Homo sapiens: one gene and its partners. Each later gene encodes a partner of the first gene's protein in a complex. Each region holds a gene or a part of one and is shown on either strand. Other genes may lie near its edges.

The links. Proteins that work in one complex are often made in the same cells at the same time.
Region 2: INTS9 (region 1) and INTS1 share a complex: the UniProt entries of both Homo sapiens proteins name them as parts of the integrator complex.
Region 3: INTS9 (region 1) and INTS12 share a complex: the UniProt entries of both Homo sapiens proteins name them as parts of the integrator complex.

Annotation. Positions count from the first base shown.
Region 1 is NC_000008.11:28,767,142-28,775,490, reverse strand, and holds the end of INTS9 (integrator complex subunit 9), read left to right. Parts: intron 1-4,410; coding exon 4,411-4,509; intron 4,510-5,464; coding exon 5,465-5,602; intron 5,603-5,743; coding exon of another isoform or gene 5,744-5,884; exon of another isoform or gene 5,885-7,114; coding exon of another isoform or gene 7,115-7,168; coding exon 7,169-7,345; 3' UTR 7,346-7,830; downstream 7,831-8,349. UniProt on the Homo sapiens protein: Component of the integrator complex, a multiprotein complex that terminates RNA polymerase II (Pol II) transcription in the promoter-proximal region of genes.
Region 2 is NC_000007.14:1,493,976-1,502,324, reverse strand, and holds part of INTS1 (integrator complex subunit 1), read left to right. Parts: intron 1-1,958; coding exon 1,959-2,155; intron 2,156-2,303; coding exon 2,304-2,441; intron 2,442-2,692; coding exon 2,693-2,852; intron 2,853-2,964; coding exon 2,965-3,070; intron 3,071-3,163; coding exon 3,164-3,350; intron 3,351-3,472; coding exon 3,473-3,618; intron 3,619-3,771; coding exon 3,772-3,913; intron 3,914-5,010; coding exon 5,011-5,187; intron 5,188-6,060; coding exon 6,061-6,169; intron 6,170-6,771; coding exon 6,772-6,892; intron 6,893-7,431; coding exon 7,432-7,509; intron 7,510-8,349. UniProt on the Homo sapiens protein: Component of the integrator complex, a multiprotein complex that terminates RNA polymerase II (Pol II) transcription in the promoter-proximal region of genes.
Region 3 is NC_000004.12:105,681,713-105,685,624, reverse strand, and holds the end of INTS12 (integrator complex subunit 12), read left to right. Parts: intron 1-2,307; coding exon 2,308-2,892; 3' UTR 2,893-2,998; downstream 2,999-3,912. UniProt on the Homo sapiens protein: Component of the integrator complex, a multiprotein complex that terminates RNA polymerase II (Pol II) transcription in the promoter-proximal region of genes.

The sequences.
Region 1 (8,349 bases):
GGTGGCACGCATCTGTAATCCCAGCTACTCGTGAGGCTGAAGCCTGAGAATCGCTTGAACCAGGAGGTGGAGGTTGCAGTGAGCCGAGATCACACCACTGCACTCCAGCCTGGGCAACAGAGTGAGACTCCAAGTATGAATGAACAAAGAACATGGACCCTTAACCAAGTAACCGGGAAGAGGGGGGATTTTCAGGGCCTTCTTGTTTTTCAACTAATAAAATAACAGCTGTTAGTCAGGACTGCTCCTTACCTAGCATTCAGCAGCGTGAGCCCTGGGCCACATCATGGGTCAGAGCCCTGGGAAGTGGAGATGCTGACACCCGCTCTGTCCCTAAATACCATAGGATGGTGACTTTTCTCTTCCTTCCTGGACCTCAGTTATGAGTGAGTGTCAAGAGTTTGCTGAATTCAGAGGTAGATGGGGGAGATAACAGGAACCAAAAAATAAGGATTGTAAACTTGGTTATTTATATCCTCTTGAGCATACTTGCAGGTTTTGGTCTATCAAAGTCTAAGTATTTTATAGGTCTGTGAACTCTTAGCTTCAGTTTTAGCAGGGAAAGAGCCAAAGCATGCTGTCCATGTTGAACAGCTGTGGCATGCTGCGCTTGGGCCACTCCTCTGAGAGGGAGACAGAGAGGGACGCGGCCTCTCCTGAAAGACAGCGTTGAGGATGGTTGGAGGCTACCTCTGGCTTCCTTTCACCTCTTGAGGCAACTTGAATGTGTTTTCAACAGACAGGAAAAAGAAATATAAAAACTTATTGTTAAAACCAGTGTGCCCAAACTTCTTTTGGAGTCTGAGGTTCAGAAATGGCCTCCAGACCTTGGGTTGGAGGTCTTGGCTCCTGAATGTGACTCATTTCCATGAGCCTGGAGAGGCTGCTAGGGACCACCAGGTGCCATCTTTATGGTTGTTTAATGTTTAATATGTTTTTATCATTTTGTTATGATTTTTTCACTTTCTCTGGATTGTTTTTGTCTGGTATTTTACAGGGGCTGGGATTGACGGCCTTGGTTTAGATTTCAACTCTCTAAGCCAGCATTCCTTAAACCTTTTGGTCTCAGACATCCTTACAAATAGAACTCCAAAGAGGTTTTGTTTATGTGGGTTATGTCTATTGATGTTTGCTATATGAGAAATTAAAACTAAGACATTTTAAAAATATTCACTTAATAATACAAACCTATTATATGTTAACATAACTAAGGGATAAAGACAAAAGCAAAAATCAGTCCCAGTGCCAGGGATAAATGTTAAGATTTTGATGTATTTGCCTTGTCTGTTCACTGTGTGTGTGCCTACTGGAATCACACCTCATACACTGTCGTCTTTTTCACCTATCAGTAAGTACATTATATCATTTAAGATATTTCAGCCAGGCATGGTAGCTCACTCCTGTAATCCTAGCACTGTGGGAGGCCGAGGCGGGTGGACAATGAGGTCAGGAGTTCAAGACTAGCCTGGCCAAGGTGGTGAAACCCCATCTCCACTAAAAAAAATTAGCTGGGCGTGGTGTCACGCACCTGTAATCCCAGCTACTTGGAGGCTGTGGCAGAGAATTGCTTGAACCGGGAGGCAGAGGTTGCAGTAAGCCAAGATCATGCCACCGCACTCCTACGTGGATGACAGAGCGAGACTCTGTCTCAAAAAATATATATTTCAGCTGGGCATGGTGGCTCATGCCTGTAAACCCCAGCACTTCAGGAGGCTGAGGCGGGGGTGAATCACTTAAGGTCACGAGTTCAAGACCAGCCTGGCCAACATGATGAAACCTTGTCTCTAATAAAAAAACAAAAATTAGCCACAGGCGTGGTGGCAGGCGCCTGTAATCGCAGCTACTCGGGAGGCTGAGGTTGCAGTGAGCCAAAATCGCGCCACTGCACTCCAGCTTGGGCAACATAGCGAGACTCCGTCTCAAGAAAAAAAAAAAAGATATTTCAAAAGCTTCAGCTTTAATGGTTGCATAATGGTCTGTCATAATTTAACAGTTCCTTTTTTCATAGATTTTTTTTTTTTTTTTTTGAGACGGAGTCTCGCTCTGTCACCCAAGCTGGAGTGCATTGGCGCGATCTTGGCTCACTGCAAGCTCCGCCTCCCAGCTTCATGCCATTCTCCTGCCTCAGCCTCCCTAGTAGCTGGGACCACAGGCACCCGCCACCATGCCCAGCTAATTTTTTTGTATTTTTAGTAGAGACGGGGTTTCATCGTGTTAGCCAGGATGGTCTCAATCTCCTGACCTTGTGATCCACCCGCCTTGGCCTCCCAGAGTGCTGGGATTACAGGCGTGAGCCACTGCGCCTGGCCCCTTTTTTCACAGATTTTCATTTCTGGTTTTTCTGTGTTATAAATAACACTTTTAGGAGCATCCTTTTACATAAATCTTTGTCCATATATGTTTATTTCCATAAGAAAATTTTCTGAAGTTAGAATTTCTGGGTCAAAGATTATGAACATCCCTTTCTGGCTCGAGGCTATATATTGCCAGCTTGTCCTCTAGAATGAGTGTGACAGTTTATACTCCCACAGCAGAGCTGGAGACAGCTCTTACTTCTGCCTCCTTGCTAATATTGAATGTTGTCCTTTTTTAGTTATTTTCCAATTTTATTCAAGTCTTTTCCAGTTATATAAGTATACACTGTTATCTAATTTTAAATTGTATGTCTTTTTTTTTCTTTTTTTGAGACGGAGTCTCGCTGTGTTGCCCAGGCTGAAGTGCAGTGGTGAGATCTCTGCTCACTGCAAGCTCCACCTCCTGAGTTCACGCCATTCTCCTGCCTCAGCCTCCCGAGTATCTGGGACTACAGGCACCTGCCACCACACCTGGATAATTTATTGTATTTTTAGTAGAGACAGGGTTTCACTGTGTTAGCCAGGATGGTCTTGATCTCCTGACCTTGTGATCTACCCACCTCGGCCTCCCAAGTCCTGGGATTACAGGCGTGAACCACCGTGCCCGGCCCTATGTCTTTTTTTGAGACGGAGTCTTGCCGTGTTGCCCAGGCTGGAGTGTAGTGGCACAGTCTTGGCTCACTGCAACCTCTGCCTCCCGGGTGCATGCAGTTCTCCTCCCTAGGCTCTCGAGTAGCTGGGATTATAGGCACATGCCACCAATCCTAGCTAATTTTTGTATTTTTGGTAGAGATGGGGTTTCACCATATTGGCCAGGCTGGTCTCAAACTCCAGTCTGCCCACCGTGGCCTCCCAAAGTGCTGGAATTACAGGCGTGAGCCACCGCACCCAGCCAAACTGTACGTCTTTGATCATTAATGGAGGTAACTGTCTCAATCCAACTTGCTACAGTAATTGCCTTTAAAATGGACATTATGGCCAGGCACATTGGCTCAGGCCTGTAATCCCAGCCCTTGGGAGGCCAAGGCAGGAGGATCACTTGATGCCAGGAGTTCAAGACCAGCCTGGGCAACACAGCAAGACCCCCGTATCTACAAAAAAATAATAAATTAGCCAGGCGTGGTGGTTCATGCCTGTAGTCCCAGCTACTGGGGAGGCTGAGGAGGGAACATCACTTGAGCCCAGGAGGTTGAGGTTGCAATGAGCTATGATCACACCACCACACTCCAGCCTGGGCAGCAGAGTGAGGCCCCATCTCAAAAAAAAAAAGACTCCTTCAGAGTCGTCTTGGAAATAGTGCATGGCTGCCCAGGGAGAGCGCAGAACGCCATCCCCAAAGCTCCCACCCCAGCCTTGTGCAGGGAGGAGGGGCCTGTGTGGAGGAGGCCTCAGGTGAAGAACGGGATCTGGCGCACACCCTGCTCCTCGGCAAGGGCCGCTTCACGCTCGCCATAGGCCGTTTTCTTATTTCATGAAACAGGCCTCACGTACCACTTGCCAATCTGCTTAAGTATCCTAAGCTGCTTCCTCTGCCCGTTTGGTATTGATCTTCATGTTTACATAATGGCCTCTTGCATGTTTTTGTTTTTAAATAAAGGTGGCTTGGCTAGGTAGGGGTCTACATGTCTTAAAAACCATGCAGCTAAACCCAGCAACAGAGCACCTAATAAGGTCAGGCTGCACGGCAGGGCACCCATCAGGTGCAGGTGGTCGGAAAGATACCACCCCCCAGGTAAAGCCGTGGCTCCCACCATCAGGAGAAGTCAGACTTTCAGGAAGAGAGAGCTCCCTCAACCGCCATGCTGCTGTCCCCGTCCTTCCTGCCACTGGTCACCTGGAGAGGGGATGAGGGTGAAGTAAAGGCCAGAATGAATGAAAGGCTGCACTTGGTGTGTCACCTGGGCGACAGAGCAAGACTCCATCTCAAAAAAAAAAAAATTGTTTACCTTTAAAGTTATTTCATCTTTTTAGACTGCAGTGATGTAAATACAGATTAAAGGAAGAGTAATGGTCATCATTAAAGGCCCCCAGCCTGAACTGCGCCCTTTGCTTTCAGCTCGCAGATTCACTGGTGCCCATGGAGATCAAGCCTGGCATCTCCTTGGCAACTGTCTCGGCCGTGCTGCACACCAAAGATAACAAGCACTTGCTTCAGGTAGGGGGTGCTGGGTGGGAGTGCAGGGGACCCTCTCCCCAGCAAGAAACCAGACCACCTAACAGATTATATTTGAAATAGCGCTTCATGTGAATTCTTGTTGAAGAATTATTTCCCTGGCCATGTGCCTCAGAGAGGCTGCTGTGCCCAGAGATGAGGCCGCACGTCATCCCAAGGGCTGCCACAGGCACATTCTGTTGGGGAGCGCTGCCACGCGAGGCAGGGCTGTGGGGAGACGTGCAGGGTGGCAGGTGCAGCCCTGCCCTTGGGGGCTGGAACCGGAGGGCACCTGCGTGAGGCTGTGGCTACCTGAGAGCCTGGTCCTACCAATGACCCACACACAGGTGGGTGGCACTTCAGCTCCAGGGCAGGCACTGTGTCTTAAGAATTCCTTTCAGATCTGGACTGTGTCACCTTTATGCCACATGTAGAGTTGCTCCTAGCTACCACTTAAAGTCTATTAGACCCTGTGCTGGGTCCTTGACCCGCCTTGTCTTACTGAGCCGTCAGAATTCACTGCTGTCATCATTTCGTAGGCAGCTTCTCTAACCTTGGCCAGATGGTGGCAAAGGTGGGGTTTCCCCCTTTGGTCTGACCCCACAGCCAGTGTGCCCAGCCACGGGGTCATGATGTACCTGCAGCACGACACAGTGTATTCTGGAGAATTTACTCAGCAGATACTGAAGTGAACCACCTGAAAATTTAAAAATGGATCTTGATAGAAGGCAGAGATCTTAGCGAATAAGGTGTTGGTAGGCTGGACAGTTGAGCATTAGAGCGCGTGGATCTGGGGCTCCCGGCAGCCAGGGAACCTGAACCGAGTGCCGGCTGAGGAAACCGGGCCGGGGCTCTGTGGCCTGTGAGGACAGGATAGTCTCAGGCTCTCAGTGTGGCCTGCGGTGGCCCCTGCTGCTCAGAGGAAGCTCATGAAAGCCACTCTTTCCTTCTGCTCTAGCCCCCTCCTCGGCCCGCCCAGCCCACGAGCGGGAAGAAGAGAAAGCGGGTGAGCGATGACGTACCAGACTGCAAAGTCCTGAAGCCTTTGTTGAGCGGTTCCATCCCTGTGGAGCAGTTCGTGCAGACCCTGGAGAAGGTGAGCTGGTTTCGCTGGTGCCGTGAAAACTCCACACGTGGCAGCCTTTCCCTGGCTCACTATGGCCCCCTGGCTGCAGGGAGTGGATGTTGCTGCTTGTCACTTAGTCCCCACTGTCCTGTGGCATCTGTTTGGTCTAAGGTCCTGCTGGGAGACCCAGGAGAAAGAAAGCAGAGTGAGGAGTGCCCCATCCTTCCTCCCAGCACGAGGTCACCAGAAGGCCTCTCCAGACTGAAGAAAAAGCTGCTTCCACACACACATGTGACGAGTGGGGCAGGGTAGTGAGGCCAGGACAAAGAGGGACCCGGCCCTGCCAGAGTCTTGCACTTCCACAGATGACTCCTTGCTGTCAGAGGGGAGCCAAGTCTCCAGTCGACTGTCAGGATTTGCAGGAGGCAGTCGGGGGAGGGGACACTGGCCCTTCCCCTCTGTCTCAGCAGCCCTGATGGCTGCTTCTCCCAGAGATGAGATTTCTTGACTATGATTAAAAGAAAAAAATCTAACCTTAAAGGTTGTAATTTTGGCTTCAGTCACAGGACTTCAGAGATGACTTTATTAGGATTATAGAATCTTTGATAGGAAGAAGGAATTGGCTAAAGGTAATACTGTTCATGCTGCTGCTTGCAAGAACTGCAACAAATTACAATCATTACAAGGAAGGAGATTTCTATGAACTTTCTATCCAATGTAAATATCACAGTTGCCGACTTTCAAATCTTAAAGGCTTTCCCTTTCCTAGGATTGGTTTTCTCCACCTGTCTTTGATTTTCCCGTAGGGAAAAAGGCTCTGGCTGGGTGGTTGCGGCTCTCTTCCACCCTCCCTGAAGACCTTGCAGGGCTCCTGGGCCCTGTTAATGGGCCTCAAGCTGGACTTTTAAAAACTTAAGATGAGGACCTTCTGCCTGGCCCAGCCTATGTCCTGACCCAGTGTTCCACCCCGGCTCCTCTCTGCAGAAGGAGCAAGCACCTGTCCAAGTCCCTAGGGGAGCCTGCAGCCATGAAGTACAGGTGGCCTCCCCACACCGAGGCCCTTCACCTGCTGTGTGTCTGTTTCAGGCACATGCCTCCTTTCCATGTCACGTCTGATTTGTAAGGAATTTCTGTCCTTAGCATTAGCAATAGCTGAGAAGTTTGCACTGCTGCCTTCTCTCCTTCACTCTTGAGAGGGCTCTGCCAAGTCCCACAGGGGTATCTTGGTGTCACCTGGCATTTTCCTGGGAGCTCAGACAGCTGAAACTTAGGAGGGAGCTGTCACCAGGGAACGGCATGGTGCAAGCAGCTGAGCGTCCCAGACTCCTGAACACAGTGCTTGGACGTGCCCTCAAAGAACTCACAAAAGCTTAGCCAGGTTGTGGAAATTCTGTTGTTTTGCATGAGCTTTTGCATGTTTAGGGTCTCTTTTCAAGTATAAGAAACTATCACTATCATAGGCCTATGACTAGTCTGAAGAATTGTGTTGAGACGTGTCAGTTTCTAGAAAGTTCAGTCGAGTCTGTGAAGTGTCATTTACAGATCTCACAGATGTGCAGTCTGCCCAGCCCACCTCTTTCTTTTCTTCTGGAGCAGCATGGCTTCAGTGATATTAAGGTGGAGGACACAGCCAAGGGCCATATCGTCCTGCTCCAGGAGGCTGAGACGCTCATCCAGATTGAAGAAGACTCGACCCATATCATCTGCGACAATGACGAGATGCTCAGAGTGCGACTGCGGGACCTTGTCCTCAAATTCTTACAGAAGTTCTGAGTGGGCCATCTGAGCTACTTCCCTGAAATCCTGCAGTCCCTCACTGGCTGCCCTCACAAGCCACCTGAGGAGTGGCATGAGAGGCCATTAACTGTGTCTTTGTGGTGTCCTCTGGCTTAAGGAGTGAAGAGGTGGCTCTTGAGGGAAATGGTCTGGACTTATTCCCAGCACTGTTTCAGGCAAGAACTTTCCCTTTCAACTTCAGGCTCATTTTCTTCTCAACTCTGGCTCTCTCAAGGAGCTGGAGGGTGGCAGAAGTGGGACAGGAGAAGTTTTCCAAGAGGTTCATGGGAGGCGGAGGTGACTGGCTGGCTGTCTTGCATCAGTCCCAGGCCTCGGCCAGGGGAGCCAGCCTTTGGTTTCGTTTACTTGCCTACAGTGCTGTACGCAATAAGATGATGATCCCAAAATATGGTAAAGTGAACCCATCTGTCTGCATTTTCTACTCTGAGCCCATTTGTTAATAAACACTTATTTTTATATAATTAGCTGTCCTCTGTTGAACCTACCATCTATATATTGATTTAGTAGCTGAAAAAATATGAAAATATACAGAACAGCATGAACTTAGAAAACACCACAGGAAATTGAATTTTGATGTGTATGTTAAATCATATAATTTGCACTGTTTATAAAAACACAGATCTGTTTCTCCTTACATTGCATAAGAAGGTGCTCACCTTTAAGCTGTGGCTGCACGGAGAGTGATGCAGGTCGGTACACCAGCCTCAGGCTCCACCTGCACCGCCTCTCCCACAGATCCTCAGTCTCTGCATTAAACCGGGCGTTACTCACAGATACCCTCAGAGCCACTGGTCGTAGGAAGCTTTCAGACAAAAGTAACCTCACAAAAGATGACTGCTTTTGAAATGTATAAAACCAACAGTTACCAGGTGAAATAGCACGAGCTGTGACACCCAGGCCAACTTTGCGAGTATTAAGAACAAGTCTTAGCCCTGGCAGGCGATGCTAGATAGTATGCCCAGCGCAGGCTATTCTTAACC
Region 2 (8,349 bases), on another chromosome or scaffold:
TTCCCAACGACCATTTCTCAAGGCTCCGTGACTCCCTGGGAGTCGCTCTGGCAGCTATCGCACCAGCCCCAGCAAGCCTCATGGTCTGCAGTGTTTTGTTTCTGTGGGAGCATCTCTTTTGGGTAATTTCTTTGTAGGAGTCAAAAAGAACAAGTGTCCTGATGACTTTGGTAGTGAGGTGTCTGTTCAAGCCGCGCCACCTCTGGTTACTGAGTTTTGTGCCAGACAGGACCCAGGGGACTTGTGGGCTGTGGCCTTGCCCTCAGGGAGGGACCAGGCTGCTGCAGTGCAAGCCTGTGAGTGAGTCCCCGACGGCCCTGGAAGGGAGGAGGCCTGGCAGGGAGTTGCAGTATGGGCTTGGGCCTGGAAGCACAGGCGATGAAACCGGGGCAGGCAGGAAAGGGAGATGCCAAGCAGAGAATGGACTGTGCCCAGGGAATGGAGGCCTGGCCTGGCCTGGGCAGCACACGCTCATGAGAGCTGAGGCTGGGCGCTGTGGGCAGTGTTTGTGCTGGACTCAGTTGGCATCAGGGAGCCCTGGGGGCAAACGGCCCAGGATGGCACAGCTGGGGGACTGCTTTAGGAGGTCGAGCCTCAGACCTCCCATGAGGCGTGTCCCTGGGCAGCTGGTGCCGGTGGGGATTGAAGACAGAGACCACAGGCCTCATCCTGGCCCGGGCTCTCGGCCGCCGGCGGCTCGGTGCTTTATTTATCTTTAGCACTACCTCCTGTAGAAAGGAGGTTTTGAAGATGAGAGGAGACGTGGTTATGAAAAGCGTATTCTGAGTGGTAGATCACTTTATAGTATTATTCTCAGCAAAACAGAGAGATGGCTGCATCCAGCCATTTGTGGTAAATGTCCCAGGCTGTCCCTCCATGCTGGCAGCCCACTTGTCCCCCAGCTTGTCTCGGCATCAGGAAATTTATTCCAAGTCTCTGTCCCGGGCGCAGTTAAGGTAGATCACAATGCCTCTGTCCACATGTGTGTGGATATGTATTTACTTATTATTTATTATTTATTTATTTATTTATTTTTTTTTGAGACAGAGTCTCGCTGTGTTCCCCAGGCTGGAATGCAGTGGCACGATCTCGGCTCACTTCAGCCTCCGCCTCCCGGGTTCACATGATTCTCCTGCCTTAGCCTCCCAAGCAGCTGGGATTACAGGCATGCACCACCACGCCTGGCTAATTTGTGTATTTCTAGTAGAGACAGGGTTTCACTGTATTGGCCAGGCTGGTCTCGATTTCCTGACCTCAGGTGATCCACCTGCCTCAGCCTCCCAAAGTGGTGGGATTACAGGTGCTAGCCACTGCACCTGGCCGTTTGTGGATATTTAAAAACACAGTCCTAAAAAACTGTTGGGACAGAGAAGAATCAGAATGAAAATGAGAAAACCTCCGATCCAACAGTGGCAAACACGACGATAGGAAAGGTGTGTGCTGGCCCTGGTGCTCCTCAGAGGATGTGGGAGGGTCAGGCACTCGTCTGGAGGAAGGTTGTGAGCCGAGCACCCATGGAAAGAGGGAGGAAAAGTGGGAAGAAGGGCATGCTGGAGACTGGAGCTGGGGTGGGTGCGGAGAGAGGGCCACTGTGCTGCGGTCCACAGTGAGAAAGAAGCCGCCAGACGGAGCCACGATTCAGTGGAAAGTAAAGCTGCAGGTGGCCTGGCTTGCTGGGAAATGTCTGTAGCCTTTGGGGTAGTCGTGTGGGACACAGCGGAGCCAGGACTGGAGTGGCTGGTGGGCTAGTGCTGAGGCCTGTGGGGCAGCCTGTTGTATTAAGGGGACCATCTGGTGGGGTGCTTGTCCGCTGTGGGAACTTTGCTGAGGGTGGATCGCTGGTCCCTGGCAGGGCCGACCCTGAGAGCTCTGGGTTCCTCGTGGTCTTCCCGGTGTCCCGAGGCTTTGGGGTGACCCTGCCCTGGCCCCGTTCTGACCGTACCGCCTGCCCCGGCCAGTGCTGCCCACGGTGCTGCTGGATGAGATCGAGGCGGCCGAGCTGGAGGGCAACGATGACAGGATCGAGGGCGTGCTGTGCGGGGCCGTGAAGCAGCTGAAGGTCACCCGCGCCAAGCCTGACAGCACCCTCTACCTGAGCCTCATGTACCTGGCCAAGATCAAGCCCAACATCTTCGCCACTGAGGGCGTCATTGAGGTTTGAGCCGGGCCCCTGGCAGGAGGCGAGCAGCGCTGGGGCCCTTGGCTCCCCTCCTCACCTCCCCCTTAAGTGTCCCTCCCGGCCCACCCCAGCTTTGCCTCTGGGGCCAGCGAAGCTCCCACGTGACATGCGCCCTCCCTGGCAGGCTCTGTGTAGCCTCCTGCGGCGGGACGCCTCCATCAACTTCAAGGCCAAGGGGAACAGCCTGGTGTCTGTGCTGGCCTGTAACCTCCTCATGGCCGCCTACGAGGAGGACGAGAACTGGCCCGAGATCTTTGTCAAGGTGAGCGTCCTCTCCCGGGACGGTGAAGATGGCAGAGCGCCACGGGGTGGGGCAGGGGCGAGAGAAAAGCAGAAGTGTGTTCTCTCCAGAGGGCTGTGTCTGACAGCCCTGGTGGTGATGGCACGGTCCCTGCTGCACCCAGAAGCTGGAGAGGGCCGCCTGGGCACCCAGTCCCCGGGCAGCAGGCGGGTGTTCCCCAACCTGGCTGCTGCCCGGCTGGGCTCGGGGCTGAGGGTGTGGCTGCCACACAGGTGTACATCGAGGACTCCCTGGGGGAGCGGATCTGGGTGGACAGCCCTCACTGTAAGACGTTTGTGGACAACATCCAGACGGCCTTCAACACCAGAATGCCCCCCAGGAGCGTGCTGCTGCAGGGGGAGGCGGGCCGCGTTGCGGGCGACCTGGGTGCAGGTGAGACACACGGCCAGCCAGAGAGGGCGGGTGTCCAAGCCCCAGGGCAGGGGAGGGGTGGGAGGATGGGCGGGTGGGAGGCGCTGCATGGAGCCCTCTCCTTGGTTTGCAGGGAGCAGCCCACACCCCTCCCTCACGGAGGAGGAGGACAGCCAGACGGAGTTGCTGATCGCGGAGGAGAAGCTGAGCCCCGAGCAGGAGGGCCAGCTCATGCCCAGGTAGCTGCGTGCCTGCCCGGTCCCAGTTGGGGGCGGCGGGGGCGGGCGCCTCGGGGCCACCTTCCTCCCTCCTCGCTCCCTCCTCTGGCCTAGGTACGAAGAGCTCGCGGAGAGCGTGGAGGAGTATGTCCTGGACATGCTGCGGGACCAGCTGAACCGGCGCCAGCCCATCGACAACGTCTCCAGGAACCTCCTGCGGCTCCTCACCTCCACCTGCGGCTATAAGGAGGTGCGGCTGCTGGCGGTGCAGAAGCTGGAGATGTGGCTGCAGAACCCCAAGGTGCGGGGGCGCCCCGGGGGGGTGGGCGGGGCAGGGGGTGGGGGCAGGCTCTGTGTGGCCCCACAGCGTGGTCTTCCTGCCGGGGTGGCCGTGAGCCCACTGCTCCCTCCTCGGCCCCGCAGCTGACCCGGCCGGCCCAGGACCTGCTGATGTCCGTCTGCATGAACTGCAACACGCACGGTTCCGAAGACATGGACGTCATCTCACACCTGATCAAGATCCGCCTCAAGCCCAAGGTCCTCCTCAACCACTTCATGCTGTGCATCAGGTGCGTGGCGAGCCGGGGCAGAGCGGGGGTGCGGGTGGAGTGGGGGTGTGGGTGGGGGTGTGGGCGGAGCGGGGGTGCGGGCGGAGTGGGGGCACAGGCGGAGTGGGGGCACAGGCGTAGCGGGGACAGGGTCTGTACCCTCACCTCACCCAGGGAGCTGCTGAGCGCGCACAAGGACAACCTGGGCACCACCATCAAGTTGGTGATCTTCAATGAGCTCTCCAGCGCCCGGAACCCGAACAACATGCAGGTCCTCTATACCGCACTGCAGCACAGCTCAGAGCTGGCGCCCAAGGTAGGCCCAGGGTCCCTGGCCTTGCCCTCCACGCCGGAATATGGGGCTCTGGGCTGGAGGGGCACGTGGCGTCTGGGGAGGCCGGTGGATTGGCAGTGCTTCGTGGGAGAATGCTCCTCGGTCTCGGGAAGGAGCTTTTGAAACTCACGTGGGCATGAGGTTGAGCCGTTTCTAGAGTGGGTGCAGCCACAGCGCCCAGCGTCTTTCTCAGAAACTGACACTCTGTCCATTTAGGAGGGAGCCACATTGAGTCTTAAAAGCCACCCAGGTTTCTGAGCTAAGACCCAGACCTGTTGCCTTCTGTTTTTATTTTTCAAGCTCATTCCTGCCTTTGGATAGTAAGGTAGTTTTTAAAAATTTTGTGGAGACCGGGTCTTATTATGTGGCCCAGGCTGGTCTCAAACTCCTGGGCTCAAGCGATCCTCCTGCCTCAACCTCCCAAAGTGCTGGGATGACAGGCATGAGCCCCTGTGCCTGGCCCAGACCCGCCTCCTGTGCATTGGGTCCCTCGGTTAAGCAGGGGTCCCTGTAGCCCTGGCTGTAGGACCCTTGGATTTCCGTGTCTCCTTTGAAGCGGGCTCGGGAGATGCTCCCATCGCCACCAGCGCATTAGGCCTCCCGGTGGGCTCTATGGAGTGTGAAACACGAGGGAGGCACAGCCGCTCTCAGCTCCGCGTTCAGTCTTCGCGGCCTGGCATTTTGAGACAGGAGTGCGTCCTTTCAGATCCTTTCAGATCTTGGGTGGTGGCCTTTGGTTTCCGTTCAGCCCGTGGCGCACGGGTGGGCTGAGATGGCACACGCGCTTCTATGGCTTTGCCGCCTGGTGTCCCGCACCCCCAGCTTCCGTTAATTAATCCTCCTCATTTCACGAGGACCGACTCCCCACCTGCCGGTTCTCAGAGAGGGGAATCAGATGTGATCCCTGCTCGCCAAGGGCTGGCAGCCAGTAGAGCAAGGAGCCCGCCACCCCGCACCCCACACTGTCTGAGACCCACTGCAGCGCCCTCGGGCGCCATACCTGTTGGTGCTGCGGGAAGGGGCCTGTGACAGGGACAGCACTGTCGGGCAGCCTCCCACGCGGCCTCTCTCTGCCCCAGTTCCTGGCCATGGTGTTCCAGGACCTGCTGACCAACAAGGACGACTACCTGCGGGCCTCGCGGGCCCTGCTGCGGGAGATCATCAAGCAGACCAAGCACGAGATCAACTTCCAGGCCTTCTGCCTGGGGCTCATGCAGGAGCGCAAGGAGCCGCAGTACCTGGAGATGGAGTTCAAGGTGCCAGCCCTCGCCGCTGGGGCGCCTTTCCCTCACTGCGGGTTCCACGCGCCGCCATCCCCCTCGTCCTGGGTCCCATGCACACTCCACCCCTTCGGATGCTCTGGCTGAGCGTGGGTACGGGGATGAGTGAGGCTGTTTGCGGTGACGCGTCCCAGAGGGTAGCATAGGCTCTGTCCTGTGTGAGGACCTATGAGGGGCTGACCAAGCACAGGGGAACTGGCAACCCCTAGGCTGGATGGGATGAATTGCTGCCGGCAGCAAGGGGAGCACGGGAGCAGGGAGGCAGGGTGGGGCTGCGGGCTGCCTGGCTGGGTTGGAGACTTTTCGAGGGCTGTGGAGGGAGCTGGCGCTGGAAGGCACAGTGAGGGTGGATCACAGAGATGCCAGGTCCCTGCAGCCAACTCGCAGCCAGCCTGCCGGGGTGGCCTGTTTTGCGGACGGGGCTTTGTGGATCTCTGTTGACTGAACCTCCCTCCTGTGGCCAGACTAGGACCTTGTGGGCCACCGGCCCTGGTGCCCCTCCTGTCAGGCCCCTCTCCCAACTGGTCCTGGGCTCTCTCTCTGGATCCCTGCTTGTGTGTGTGTATGTGTGCGCATGTGCAAGTGTGTGCGTGCTGCACCCACGTGTTTGTGGAGTGGGGCTCCCGGGTGTCCCTTCTGGATACAGACCCCGTGCCGCGCCCACGTGGGTGTGGAGTGGGGCTCCCGGGTGTCCCTTCTGGATACAGACCCCGTGCCGCGCCCACGTGGGTGTGGAGTGGGGCTCCCGGGTGTCCCTTCTGGATACAGACCCCGTGCCGCGCCCACGTGGGTGTGGAGTGGGGCTCCCGGGTGTCCCTTCTGGATACAGACCCCGTGCTGCACCTGCAGGAGCGCTTCGTGGTGCACATCACCGACGTCCTGGCCGTGTCCATGATGCTGGGCATCACAGCGCAGGTGAAGGAGGCCGGCATCGCCTGGGACAAAGGAGAAAAGAGGAGTAAGGATGTGGGGGTGGCCTGGCCCTGCTTGGTGGGGGTCTCGGGTCCAGGCTGGTGGCTGGCGGCTCTCCGAGGCTGCACTGTCCCCTGAGCGCCCGGCAGGAGCGGTCCCGCAGCACGGCTACTCGGGGACACGGAGCCTGGAAGCTGCCGTCCCCGTTCCTGTCCATCCGGGCCTCACCCCAGCTGCAGGCTCAGACCCTGTTCCCATGAGCGTCCTTTGTGTGCTCCAGTTCTGGCCCAGCATGGGGGCATTGCAGGCGTGGTGGCCCCAGCCACGGGCGGGAGTGGGGAGGGGAGGTGGTGTTTGGGGCAGTCCGGGTGTTTGATTATGGGTTCACAGGAAGGCTGGGCCGCAGAAGCCCTCTAAGCCATTGACCGGAGCGAGTCACTCGGAACAGGAGGATTCCAGTCACCCACGCACGCGTCAGGGTCACTCCATGCCTCCCAGGGTGTTATTCCAGCTGGGAATCGTCCAGAAGCTGGGGGTGCCCTGAGTTACCCCCTCCCAAGTGCCAGCATTGAGTTGGACCCCCAGGGGTGCCTTAGCCCCTCATGGCCCATGGCTCGGATGGGCCACTAAGCTGCGTGTCTGTTTCAGACCTGGAAGTGCTCCGCTCATTCCAGAACCAGATTGCCGCCATCCAGCGGGATGCCGTCTGGTGGCTCCACACTGTGGTCCCCTCCATCAGCAAGCTCGCCCCTAAGGACTACGTGCACTGGTGCGGCTGGGGCCCTGTACAGCCCCTGTCCCACACCCCACTGAGCCGGGACAAGCCGGGGCCCCGCACAACCCCTGCCCCAAACCCCACTGAGCCAGGACAAGCCAGGCCCCGCACAGCCCCTGCCCCACACCCCACTAAGCCGGGACAAGCCAGGCCCCCACACGGGAGTCTGTCCCCTCTCTGCGGACAGCAGCAGCCGTTAGGCTCCAGGCAGGTCACCCTGTGCATTGGAGCCTCCCGTGGAGCCTCTGCCTTGGTTGGGGTGGGGCTGCCAGGCTGGGGCTGCATTTCTCTGCAGCGATTTTGTAAAGGGCTGTCCAGCCCGGCAGCCCCGTTCGGCCGCTGTGCAGCCTGGCAGCCCCGTGAGTGGTCCCTGGGTTCTTTGGTGGTGCTGTGAGGAGGTGCTGAGCTTGGGCACCAGGCAGCCCGGCCTCTGAGCGCTGGGGCCCGTGGGAGCGGGGTCCCTTCCCTGGAACTAACGGGGCTGGTCCCTGAGCACCCACATCATGACTGAGGGCTCTTCTCTGCCTGCCCAGCCTGCACAAGGTGCTGTTCACAGAGCAGCCGGAGACCTACTACAAGTGGGACAACTGGCCACCCGAGAGTGACCGCAAGTGAGTGCGCTGCCGCCTGGGGCTCCTGTGTGCCGGGCTGGGCGGGGCTGCGGGGTGCCGGGCCGGCTGCGGCAGGAAGGGCCAGTGGGAGTTGGGCGGCTGTTCCCATGGTCACAGCACCATCCTGCTCCTCCTCCACAATCCTGGGTGCCACCCTTCTCCCACTCCCATGCTGGCGTCCCAGCGCCACTGTAGGGATTCAGCTGCCGTCTGCGTCCACGTGACTCCAAGCCCCAGCCGCAGCCTCCCCCGGACCCCCGCCTTCCAGTTGCTTCCAGGGCGTCCACGGGCACGCCACCCTTCACGCAGTCTCAGATGCACCGTCTGCCCCTGCTTCTGTCCAGACAGCCGCACACTGTCCTTCCCCAGCCGGCTGGCCTCACAGCTCTGTCCCCCTTCAAGCCCCATGGGTGACCCCGTGGGTTCTTGGTCTACACTCCCCTCCAGCCCCGCCTGGGGCTCCTGCCAGTTCACCCTGCCCCCACCTCGTGCCCTGGGCGCTCTGTTCACCTTCACTGCGGCCTTCCGGTCAGGCTTTGGAGGTGTAGGGGTTATCTCTGTCTCCTGGCCCCCAGCTCCTTGAGGGCAAGAACCATCTAGAGGCCTCTGTGGGGTGGCAGAGTCTCCGTGTGGTGGTTGTAGGAACCAGTGACTGTGTGTGTATCCCCAAAGGCCTTGGGGTGGGGGTAGCCTCCCCTTCTCCCCTTGTCCAGGCGAGACTTAGAGCCAGGGCTCCTGTCCTGCAAAGGGAGGCTCAGGTTGGAGGGGATAGGCTCGTGGGAGGCAGCAGCAGCCCTCTGCCACCAGCCCGTGGGCTCTGAGGGAGAAGCTGGCCTGTCC
Region 3 (3,912 bases), on another chromosome or scaffold:
CTAAAGTTATTGCCTTATCTAAGTGACTGTAAGTAGTAAGCTTCATACCCTTGATGTGATGAAAAAGAATATGAATACGAAATACTTTTAAAAACTTATTGATAATTATATTTGGAGATTATTTTTCATTTTAATTTGCCAGGGAAGATTTGCTATCCAAGGCATATCCATTATTGATTTGTCATATAGGAACTTGGTGAATTGGAATAGAAGTAAGAATAACCAGTTTATTGAAAGTAATTAGAGTTGCTATATTCTGCATATAATCACTTTTTAGTAGATTTTTAGATTAATCTGTTACTACTAAAGTTTATTTTTAGAAAATTCAACATGAAATCATTTTATGGCAAACAAATTAAAGACTGCTGTCATATTTGTTTTGATTAAGAGGTTTTGTGTTTCTTTAATAAAAAATTCACTTTTTATAAAAGTGAATAAATTTATACTATAAAAAAATTGTTCCCATTCACATATAAAAAGCAAATGTCTTTTCTAACTTGCCCATCTAGCAAATAGGCAAGAAAATATTTATAGTTAAAAACTTGAGAAATTTGTTTTCTACACTGAAATAGTAAGAAATCACTTGGTCTCCATTGTTTGTGTTATATTACTTCTATGTGTCCTGATAGTATTATAAACCATCTGTCATCCTGTTGAAAAGCAATACTAAGCAACAGCAAGCCATTAAAATGAAATGCCAGACACATAGAACATGCTTTCTTGCTTGTACTTCCTAAGTGTTGGTCTTTTAATTACTAAAGGTGGGTTTTCTTTTGTGAAGTTTTTTGAAAGATCATTTAACCATATGGCAGACAGTTTTATGTTTAATAGCAAGAAAAGGAAAAAAAATTAGGTCTTTCATAACTGAAAATTAAAGGTTTACTTCTTGACTAACTTTTTCTCTCATTGCTGGTATATATTCCTCTAGGAATAAATGGTTTATGTAGTTTTTCTTCTCTGGATAACTTCATAAGATAGTTAATATGTTACTGTAAGAAAACTTCCTATCAATTTTCAGAGTATGTGGACAAATATCTGGATTCCTTCTCTTATAAATCGAATATCTCAGAACTCTATTTTTGTTACTTTTCACATTGATTAAAAATGTATGCATGCAGACAATATTGAAGGCTACCTTGATTTCAAGAGCTAAAAATGTTTTATCAACTATTTCAGAGTAAAGTTCTAAATTATAACTGGATATATTTTAGGTATAATAACTACCATTTTTTAAGTAGGATGTTATTTTGTAAAATTTTATCTTTTACCTATATGTGAATGTAATGCTTTTGTGAATCTTCTTAAGAGTATAAAGGTAGAAAAGGTGTCAATAAGAAGTTCAATTCAAAATTAATTTGAATACGTACATTTGTGCCTAATATGAAAGTGAAAAAATATATTCTTGTGTGAACAAGAGCAATATGTATTTATATAGTGGCATTGGTACCATTGTGAGCTTCTGATTAGCCAGGAAAGTTAATCAGAGAAGTTGAAGTGTTATACCCTTATGAAATATATCAGAGAATGAGATCAGTCCTACCCAAAATGTCACTGTGCAGCCTAATGAGGCAATTGATAAAATCCTTATTAAAGGAGCAGGAGACTCTTACATGATAGTTTAACCGGAATCATGGGCAAATTGTGAAACTAAAATCATGAGAACTTTTTAACACATCATAAAAATTGTACACTTCCAAGTAATTAACTTTGCATATATTTTGTACTCCTGTAACTGTTGCTCAAAATTTAGGAGGACATTTTTTTTTAATGGGTTTAGAATCTATACAGCTGTCTTCTTTCTCTCACACAGTCACTCAGTAAATAAATATTGACTGAATCTCTTCATCTTGGATATGTTCTCCTGAATATTCTGGGTATGGGCATTTTTGCTATTAAGAGTGAATTAAATTTTTGAAATGATCCCTAGTTATTTGGAGAAAAGTCTAAAAGAATTAGATGTTTAACTAAGGTCGATAATACTTTGTTGGGTAAAAACTATGTTAAAGCACTAAATCTGGTTTTCAGATATAGCTTAGAATTGAATCTAAAAGCAATTCCCAAAAAGGAATTTCATATATTTTCTTTTGGAATCATTAGAACAAGAATATGGTATCAAAAATTTTCTGCTTTGCAAATGATAATACCCACTAGATACAGATAAGTTTTGTTCTGTGTGGTTTTTCAGATCAGCTTCATAAGAACCTAATTTGGTGGTGTGATTTAAATTTCCCAATTCATAACTTGGGATGTTTATACAGGTACTGATTAAACTTGGCTCTAATGTAATTATTTACTTTATTTTTTTAGACATCCACAGTTATTTCAGGAAATTCTTCTAGTGCCAGCGTTTCCTCGTCAGTAACTAGTGGCTTAACTGGATGGGCAGCTTTTGCAGCCAAAACTTCCTCTGCTGGTCCTTCAACAGCAAAATTGAGTTCAACAACACAAAACAATACTGGGAAACCTGCTACTTCGTCAGCTAACCAGAAACCTGTGGGTTTGACTGGTCTGGCAACATCATCCAAAGGTGGAATAGGTTCCAAAATAGGTTCCAATAACAGCACTACGCCCACTGTACCTTTAAAACCACCTCCACCTCTAACCTTGGGTAAAACTGGCCTTAGTCGCTCAGTTAGTTGTGACAATGTCAGCAAAGTAGGTCTTCCTAGTCCAAGTAGTTTAGTTCCAGGAAGCAGCAGCCAACTAAGTGGGAATGGAAATAGTGGAACATCAGGACCTAGTGGAAGTACTACCAGCAAAACTACTTCAGAATCCAGCAGCTCTCCCTCAGCATCCCTTAAAGGCCCAACTTCACAAGAATCACAGCTCAATGCTATGAAGCGATTACAGATGGTCAAGAAGAAAGCTGCCCAAAAGAAACTCAAGAAGTAATGTGGCCAAGTAGGTTTTTGTATCATATTAGCCTAAAGATGAAAGGCTTATTATTATGATATAATCTGTAATACACTGTAATTTAATAAAAGTCTTCATAATCAAATTTCTATTGTTTCTTACCTTAAAATGCTAAATATTATATAACAAAACTTGGAAACTTTCATTTTAAATCAATCTTCAACATTTTTATTCTAATGATTTCCATAGTGTGTGAAAACAATGATTAGAATGACTGGTTCTCAATGAGATCTTCAGAAGATTGAAAGCATCTGTGAATTTAAGGAAAAAGAAATAGTTCATCTTCTAGCAAAGCCCCAAGAGTTGATCCTGATGAATGAGGTGCCTTATGTGGCGGCAGGGACGACCCAACATAGTTTTCTATTTTCCTCCCCGTATTCTGGGTGTTCATTTTCTGTGCTAGCCCCATTTCAACTGACTCTCCCTCTCCCTCCCAATTATTTCATCTTTTTCAAAATTATTTTTTCATTATTGATTTCTCATATCAATGGATTTTCCTAATTGATTTATCATACTTCATATTATATCTTTACCTTTTTTATCACCTCATTTCAATTATTTAAGGGTATATCTTTTTCCAATAAATTGTGAACTCTCCTGGTGCTTAATACAATATTTTTTCTCACATTGCTCACTTTTCCTACATTGCCAATGTAATACATGCACATAGTACGTAATAAATGTTGAATTTTGATTCATCTTGGTTATGCACATTCCTGATAAGTTTTGAAGAAAAATACCATTTCACAAAGGTCTTTGCAGATGGAAATATATGACTTGTTCACACACTGATGGCTTCTTCCTATACCATGAAAGAAAAGGCTATCTTACTTAGTGCTCAAAATGTTATAGCACTTTACCTAATTTTAGCTAACTTTGTATACAATAAGCTCCTATATAATGATTAATTCTTGAGATTGTTTTGTACATTGTTAACCCATTTATGCCAGAGGTTGCAAATTTTTTTGGTGAAAAATCAGACCTGATGATGACCTTGAA